Linked DNA regions of Homo sapiens: region 1 is linked to region 2. Evidence: fine-mapped expression QTL. A gene starts in region 2. The other region holds a variant in brackets. All regions are shown on one strand. Distances are from middle to middle.

Region 1 (4,383 bases), 22 kb after region 2:
GGTGGATGTTGTAGCGAGCCGAGATCACGCCACTGCACTCCAGCCTGGGCACCATTGAGAGACTCCGTCTGCAATCCCAGCACCTCGGGAGGCCGAGGCTGGCAGATCACTCACGGTTAGGAGCTGGAGACCAGCCCGGCCAACACAGCGAAACCCCGTCTCCACCCAAAAAATACGAAAACCAGTCAGGCGTGGCGGCGCGTGCCTGCAATCGCAGGCACTCGGCAGGCTGAGGCAGGAGAATCAGGCAGGGAGGTTGCAGTGAGCCGAGATGGCAGCAGTACAGTCCAGCTTCCGCTCGGCATCAGAGGGAGACCGTGGAGGGAGAGGGGGAGGGGGAGGGGGAGGGGAGGGGGAGGGGGAGGGGGAGCCACTGCAATCGGCCACTGTGGTTTCTTTTTTTTTTTTTTTTGAGATGGAGTCTCGCTCTGTCACCCAGGCTGGAGTGCAGTGGCGCGATCTCAGCTCACTGCAACTTATGCCTCCCAGGTTCAAGCAATTCTCCTGCCTCAGCCTCCCGAGTAGCTGGGACTACAGGCGCTTGCTACCATGCCTGGCTAATTTTTGTATTTTTAGTAGAGACAGGGTTTCACCATATTGACCAGGCTGGTCTCGAACTCCTGACCTTGTGATCCGGCCGCCTCGGCCTCTCGAAGTGCTGGGATTACAGGCGTTAGTCACTGCGCCCGGCCCTAGCTGTGGTTTCTTAAAAGCGTGTCAACTAAAGTCAGACAACTTACACTTCAGAAGAAAGTAACAGTAACCTGTTTATGTACATACATAAGCCACTTTCATACCTGCCTACCAATGTATGGACTTCAGAGTAATGTGGCCTATATTTTCCCAGGATTTTTTTTTTTTTTTTTTTTGAGATGGAGTTTCACTCTTGTTGCCCAGGCTGGAGTGCAATGGCGCAATGTCAGGTTGCTGCAACCTCCGCCTCCTGGGTTCAAGTGATTCTCCTGTCTCAGCCTCCTGAGTAGCTGGGATTACAGGCATGAGCCACCATGCCTGGCTAGTTTTTTGTATTTTCAGTAGAGACAGAGTTTCTCCATGTTGGTCAGGCTGTTCTCGAACTCCCAACCGCAGGTGATCCACCCGCCTCAGCCTCCCAAATTGTTGGGATTACAGGCATGAGCCACCCCGCCAGGGCTGGGATTGTTCTTTTGCTGTTTTTTTTTTCTCTTCCTTCCTTCTCCCTATTTTCTCTTCACACTGCATGAGACTTTACAACCTGCTAAAAATGAGCTTTCCGGACCTACTTATCTAGCAATGAGAGATCAGATGAAACCTGAGACCAGATACTCATTTTCTTGCAAAATGCTTTCTCCAAAAGATTTTGAAAAAGAAAATGGGGTAAATGTGAAAGGAAAGTATCTTGGGCCTCTTCAAGCTGGGAACTGCTCAGGACAAATCTGCCTCCCATTCTATTCAAGTCATCCTTTTGCTCACAGAGATAGATGCATATTCTGATTGCCTCCTTTGGAAAGACTTACCAGAAACTCAAAAGAATGCAACCATCTGTCTCTCACCTATCTGTGACCTGGAAGCCCCCAGTGCTTTGAGCCTGGGAGCCTTGATTTGAGCAGTCTCCACCTTTCTTTCTGGAACTAATGTACTTCTTACATATTGATTAATGTCTCATGTCTCCCTAAAATCTATAAAACCAAGCTGTGCCCCAACCGCCCTGGGCACATGTCCTCAGGACTTCCTGAGGCTGTGTCACCAGCAAGTCCTCAACCTCGGCAAAATAAACTTTCTAAGTTAACTGAGACCTTTGTCAGATTTTCTGGGTTCACAGCTGATTCAGAAGCTGGTTATTGACACCTGCTAGGTGCTTGGGCCCAGCCTTGCCTGCCAGAGTAGGTTGAAGGAAACACCATGTCCCTGCCCAAGTGAAAGTGCTACCTGGATCTGAGTCAAGTCTGAGACTGAGCCACTGTAGCCAGGCCACCCCTGGCACGGTGGCCACTGAAGCAACGAAACTCACAGTTAACTACCATCTGGGTTGGGTCCTACAGGCTGCCTGGGATAGAAAAGCTGGCAGGGCTGAGGGAAAGAAGGGCCCAGGATGCTGGGGACAGCATGAGACTTGTACACAAGATCAAGCCCCAGAAGTGGTGACTGCTGATCCAGTTCAGGAAGCAGGGTCCCAGAGTGATGACCATGTAGGCCCAGAGAGCCTGGCACAACTCTTGAGGGCTGAGGGAACAGAACATCAAGGCAACCCCTGGCCCCCCTCCTCAAGGATTCATGCCACCTCCTGGTGCCCCCAGAAACCTAGTGCTGCAGTTGGCCCAATCCAGGTAACCACCAGGCCAGCATTCTCCAGCTGGCCTCAGTCCAAGGGAGAAGCTCTAATGGTGGAACCATAGGAAGAA[T/G]CTGAGGGTGCCTGAAATCCTCCTCCACCCCAGGGCCCTGCCCACAGGCCTGCTCCTACTGGGCTGGTCCAGTAGGATTGGCTCAAATGGTGTGTGTGTGCGCATATGTCTGGGGTCCATCAGCTTGATGGTCCAGTCCCGCCTGCTGTCTCCGGTTGTTCAACACTTCAGATCTCTGAGCCGCATCACTCCCCATTACCTTATTCCTACCCACTCCCCGCTTTCCCCACAGGACAGTGCTGGCTCTCCCTGAGTTGCACTTTCCCTAGGACCATCTTTTAGGTCCTCCGGGGGAAGAAATGTGAGGTTCATAAAGGTTTATATGGAGGGGGTCACAGCTCGATGGGTACTGGTCACAGCTATGCAGGAGAGGTCACAGTTGCGGAGGAGTCAGTTATTTGGAGACGGTAACAGCTGTATGGGGTCACACATGGGAGGGGTTACAGGTATGTAGGGGTCATAGCTAGGTGGGAAAGGTCACAGTGGTGTGGTCTGGATCACCTCTGTGTGTTGGGTGTGGGTGGGGTAGCTCAGAGGTATGCATGGGTCACATCTGTGTGGGGGAGGTCACAGGTGCAGGAAGTCACAGGTATGGGGGACAGGCCACAGCTCCTTTCTCCTTTCCTGCTGTCCTTTTGCTAAGTGCCATCATCTTATTGTGGCAACTTTTTTTTTGAGACAGAGTCTTGCTCTGTCACCCAGGCTGGAGTTCAGTGGCCCATTCTCCGCTCACTGCAACCTCCTGGGGTCAAGTGATTCTTGTGTTTCAGCTGCCCAAGCAGCTAGGACTACAGGTGTGCACCAACAAACCCAGCTAATTTTTTTTTTTTTTTTTGAGACAGAGTCTCACTCTGTCGCCCAGGCTGGAGCGCAGTGGTGTGATCTTGGCTCACTGCAACCTCCACCTCCCGGGTTCAAGCGATTCTCCTGCCTCAGCCTTCTGAGTAGCTGGGATTACAAGCAGGCACCACCATACCCGGCTAATTTTTTATTTTCAGTAGAGATGGGGTTCACCACGTTGGTCAGGCTGGTCTCTAATTCCTGACCTTGTGATCTGTCCGCCTCGGCCTCCCAAAGTGCTGGGATTAGAGGCGTGAACCACCAGGCCCGGATGCCCAGCTAATTTTTGTATTTTTAGTAGAGACAGGGTTTCAGCATGTTGGCCAGGCTGGTCTCAAACTCCTGGCCTCAAGTGATCCACCTGCCTTGGCCTCCCAAAGTGCTGGGATTACAGGGGTGAGCCACCGCACCCGGCCCATCATTTTATTGACCAACACCTGAATCTTCTCTCCAGCCTGGCCTCCCCCCACCATGGCCATGAGCACCTGGGACCCCTCCACTTGTATGTGCACCTCCTCCTTCACTGTGTGAATTTACCACGTCACCTTTCCAGTGTTACCACCTCACTCTCTCCTCTCCATTCTCTACCCATCACCGGCGAAAGAGGTGAGGGAAGGATATCTTTACAGCCTGGGTTGGCACTGGCTTGGCCGGGCTTGTTTCTCCCATCTGGCATCTCGGTCTTTGCATCTAGTGTGCATCTACCTCTATTTTGTCACTCCCACAAGGACGGGGGTCTTTGTTGGTGTGGTTCATAGATGCATCATCGATGCATCCCCAGCACCTAGCCCAGCACAGGCACACTGTGTGCTCAGCGTTTACTGAATGAGTAAGTCAGTATTAGGTGAAGTCAGGCCTGGTGCTGCTCTAGGGCTGCCCCTCCTGCCTCTGCCCACAGCAGCCACTAAGCCACACCCCAGCCCTGAACTGTTCACCTTCACCACCTCCAACTTCCTCCAGCCTCTGCCCAGGATTTGTTCCTGAGCATCGAGCTGCCGCCCTCACCTTTTAGAACCCAATGTGGGAAGCATCTCCAAGGGCACCACCCCTGCTCCCCTGCTGCTGGCTGCCCTCACCACTCAACGGCTTCTTGAGTCTGTCTCCCCAGAGCCAGAGCCTCCTGAAGCAGGGCTGCGTGGTGAGTCATCACGGACATGGGCGG
Region 2 (4,321 bases):
CAAGGTCTTCCTGCTGGCCCTGCTCATCCACGACATCCCCCCCTGCAAGGCCACCTGGTCAGCACCGCTTCTTGTCCTCAGCCCATGGAGCCCTCACCAAGCCCCTGTCAAACTTCCACCCGCTCTCACCAAGGCTGTCCTCTGCAGTGGTGCTGAGAAGGCTGGGGCATTCACTGGCGGTGCTGCGGGCCTCACTGGCTGCCTCATCGTCACTGGAACCCGAGTCAGCTTGGGCACTGCTCCGGGCACCTGGAGAAGGTGGAATAGGACACTCAACTTGCCTCTACTGATGAGGGATGGCTGGGGGTACCTCACTCGACCTCATAATCCCAAAAGATAGAATGGTGTCCCTCTCAGAGATGAAAAACCAAAGCCAAGGGTCAGTTCAGTAGGGCTGGTGCACTCCTGTGTGTGGGGTCTGTCCAGGGCCAAGGGCTGACATTGGCAAGGTTGGCTGCTGTGGCAGAGTTTTGGACAGGGTGTGATCACCAGGCTGGCCCTACTTCTAAGAACTACTCACACCCCTCATCTGCAGGACAAAGTCCAGCCTGCGCACTGGCCTCTGCTCCCCGCCACCTTTTTTTTTTTTTTTTTTTTTTGAGACAGAGTTTTGCTCTTGTTGCCCAGGCTGGAGTGCAATGACGCCATCTCGGCTCACTGCGACCTCTGCCTCCCGGGTTCCAGTGATTCTCCTGCCTCAGCCTCCCGAGTAGCTGGGATTACAGGCATACGACACCACACCCAGCTAATTTTGTATTTTTAGTAGATAGGGTTTCTCCATGTTGGTCAGGCTGGTCTCGAACTCCTGGCCTCAGGTGATCTGCCTGCCTTGGCCTCCCAAAGTGCTGGGATTACAGGTGTGAGCCACCACGCCCAGCCTGCTCCCATTTTATCTTACTATTCTACCTGCCGGAGCAGCCCAGCCTTCCCTCATTCACTCCACTGCGCTGGGGTCCCTCCAGCTGCCAGGTCTTTGTACAACTTGCTCTCTTCTCCATCCTCTCAGGACTCACCCAGAAGCACTTCCCCCCAGGCCTCCCTGAGTCCTAAGTCTGGGGCTGACACCACTCAGTGAACATGTTCCACACCCTATTAGATGTCCCCCACCCAAAACCCACCATGGTGGTGACCAGTTTAAAGTTGTGCCTAGGTATTTTCCTCCTTCCTGTGCCCGGCCCTCCTCCCTTCCCCCTCAAGAATAAAAATAAATAAATTTGTGCGTGGTAGGCACCCCATCCCAGCAGAGTAAACATATGTGTTTAACGCATTAAGATAGGCTCCTGGTCTAAGCTGATAAGCGAGTCCCAAGACTGCCTCAGGCTCCAGGATACTCAGCTACCTTGTGGAGTCAGGCCTGCCAAGCTGCCAAGGCCCTAACCAGGTAGCTTCCCAACAGAGCCCCCTCCCTCTCTTCACCGGAGCAGGCCAGGACTCCCGCCAACTTCCTTGACCAGTCCAGGAAAGGATCAGGGTTTGGCAAGAGGACTGGCTTCCTGCCCTGTCCGGTGAGTTTGTCCACCCAGCAGGCAACTGAGGCCCGGAGGGGCTGGCCGGGTCACCGCTGGGAGCGCGGACTCCCAACAGGCAGTGGGCAGCGAGCTCAAGTTGGGCACGCACGTGGCCAATGACTGCTGGGGCACGTGCCAGCCTCGGTAGAGTTATGGGAAGCTGCGTGGGGCTGGCCGAGGGGGTTCCCCACCCAGGGCCCTCGAGAACAACCAAGGGGATCCAGCAGGACCCCCGCCCGCCGCTCATACAGCTGTCCCGCGCCCCCCACCCCACTCACCTCCTCCACGGCGCTGACCACCCTTCCGGAGCGTGTTGCCCTTACGGGCGCGAGGCATGCCGGGAACCGGGCGCGGGGGGCGCGGGGTCAGGGACCCGGTGGGTGTGGGCTCCAGGCCAACGAGACGCCGGCCGGTGCGCTGCGCTGAGACTTGGCCAGACGACGGGAGCCACACGCCACGCGCGCCACCATCTTCGCGAGGCGCCCCGCCCTGCCAAACAGGTCGCCGGGAAGGCGAGTTCCAGGCCATCCGATTCAGGCCCACATCCACGAGGCTAAAACTACTAATCCCAGAGGCCTGAGCGCGCAGGCGACGGCGGCTAGCTGCGCGTAGAGCACCATGGGAATGGTAGTCCACGCCTGGGGCCCACCAGCCGACGACGCGCTGGCTGAACTATGCACCCACAATGCCCTGCGCGCGCCCCAGCCCCGCGTCGGGAACAAGTGCACGGTGGTTAACTCCGAAGCGTCCCTCAGTGGAGCACCAAGGCAGGACTGGCTTCTCAGGGCACTTGGCAGCGGGACACTCCAGACGAGACCTACCCCTGCCTGGGTCTGGGGACCATGGGAAGGGCTTAGAGCTTGGGATAACAGGAGCAACAGCCAAACCTCAGGCAGTGGAAAAAAGTGACTTTATGATGAAAGAGTGCAGACAACAGCTTAGCACTTTACCGACCTTCGCCAAGATTTTTTGGGGCCCATCTGCCCGTGCACGGCCCATCTGTGACCTCTCCATGGGCTTAGTGAGGTGTAGGCACAAAGCCCTAGGCTGGCAGCCCTAACTAGCTGGAACCTGACTCTCCCTGGAACTGCTTCCTTGCCATGGAGGACTCACATGATCTCAGAGGGCCTCTGGTTTTATAAGCGTTTTTTCTGGCCCCTTCTACCCCTCAGGGATTCCAAGGGAAGCGGGGTGTGTGCTTGGGAGGGTTGACTGTAAACTGAATAGAGCAAGAGTGGGACAGAGTAGTTCCAGGACTGGAAAAGTGGCAGCAGGGAAAAGAAGAGGCAGTGGCAGGGGCCCTGGCTTTATACTGCTTCTTTAGGCCCAGGCCTGGGCTCCTGGCAGGTGGGGCCAGCCCAGCCCCAGTAACAGTGGCAGCTGAAGGACTTCCAATCTCCAAGGCTGCCGTCTGGCCACAGGTGTAGAAAGGCTTCCATCTGTCCTGGATCTCGCCGGGCACAGCGCCCGTGGCCATGGCACCGCTGGTGACTGCAGGCCATCGCTGCCCTGGTCACATTGATCACATAGGGGCCCAAGGTGTCCACCAGGTAGTCATGGAGATGCCAGCACTCCTCCTGAGGAGAAGGGAAGATATGTGTCAATATGCCTGCTCTATAATCTTGACATGGCCGTCCCCCACCCTGGGACCCCAGCATGTGCTACATGGCAGGCTCAAAGGGGCAATGATCACCTCAGAGCTGGAGAGGCTCAGGTCCCCCCAGAGCACCACGCCGGCTGCCCCTAGTGCTGCACTCACACCAATGGACTGCACAAGGTCATCCTGGAGGCAGAGAGCTGCTAAGCCAGTGCTGGGCTGGCCAGATCCATGTGGGCACACATCCACATTCAAGAAACTCTTCTGGTTCACTGTCACAATCTGATTCTAACTCTACAGTAGGGACTCTCTAGTTTGGTTTGGTTTTAGAGGCGGGGTTTTACTCTGTCATCCAGGCTGGAGTGCAGTGGCATGATCATAGCTCACTGCAGCCTTGAACTCCTGGGATCAAGTAATCCTCCCACCTCAGCCTCCCAAGCAGCTGGGACTACAGGTGCATAACACCTGGCTAATAATTTTTTAGGCTGGGCACAGTGGCTCACACCTGTAATCCCACACTTTGGGAGGCAAAAGCGGGAGAATCACTTGAGCCCAGGAGTTCAATACCAGCCTGGGCAACATGACAAAACCCCATCTCTACAAAAATATAAAAATTAGCTGGGTGTGGTGGTATGCATCTGTAGTCCAGCTATTCGGGAGGAGGCTTAGGTGGGAGGATCACTAGAACCAGGAAGTGAAGGCCGCAGTGAGCTGAGATGGTGCCACTGCACTCCAGCCTGGGCAACAGAGCAAGACTCTGTCTCAAATGTTTTTTTGGTAGAGGTTGGGGTCTCACTATGTTGCCCAGGCTGGTCTCGAACTCTTGGCCTCAAGGAATCCTTCCATCTCAGGCTCCCAAAGTACTGGGATTATAGGTGTGAGACACTCACCCAGCCCAAGTAGGGCCCCTTTGTATCGAGTCTCTGAGTGGCTTCTCAGGCCTTCCACTCAGAATATCTCCCCTCAGGCCAGCACTCCAAAGGCTGGGCCTCCCTACCCCTCAACATCTTCCAGGGCAAAGCCATGCCTCCCTCATCAGATGCTCCAGGACAGGGCCTTCCGCTGAGAACGCCTAGATTAGGACCAACCCCTAGGCAAGGTCTTCTCCTGGGACCTTCCTAGAACAGGGCCATACCTCCTGACTCAGACCCCTAGACCTCAGCTTCCACTTACCTGGGACAGGAACCTCCCAGATCTCCGGTGTGTGAGGCGGACA

The links. PIP is the estimated chance that this variant, and not a neighbour inherited with it, causes the effect.
Region 1: its variant is the best candidate, but not a certain one, in a credible set for the expression of IFRD2 in skeletal muscle (GTEx, PIP 0.58).

What each region holds. Positions count from the first base shown.
Region 1 is chr3:50,312,646-50,317,028 of GRCh38, forward strand. No RefSeq gene overlaps it. Among named protein-coding and RNA genes, the nearest start is that of HYAL2, 7.9 kb to the right of the region's middle. The variant T/G (reference allele first, on the strand shown) is at 2,382.
Region 2 is chr3:50,290,431-50,294,751 of GRCh38, forward strand. It overlaps IFRD2 (interferon related developmental regulator 2), which reads right to left and starts at 1,999. Exons shown (of 12, transcript NM_006764.5): 1 at 1,787-1,999; 2 at 130-249; 3 at 1-42. The coding sequence starts at 1,844. HYAL3 (hyaluronidase 3) reads right to left here. Exons shown (of 4, transcript NM_003549.4): 2 at 4,279-4,321; 3 at 3,202-3,291; 4 at 2,402-3,085. The coding sequence ends at 2,816. RefSeq lists a silencer at 1,708-1,917 and enhancers at 2,298-2,487, 2,878-3,433.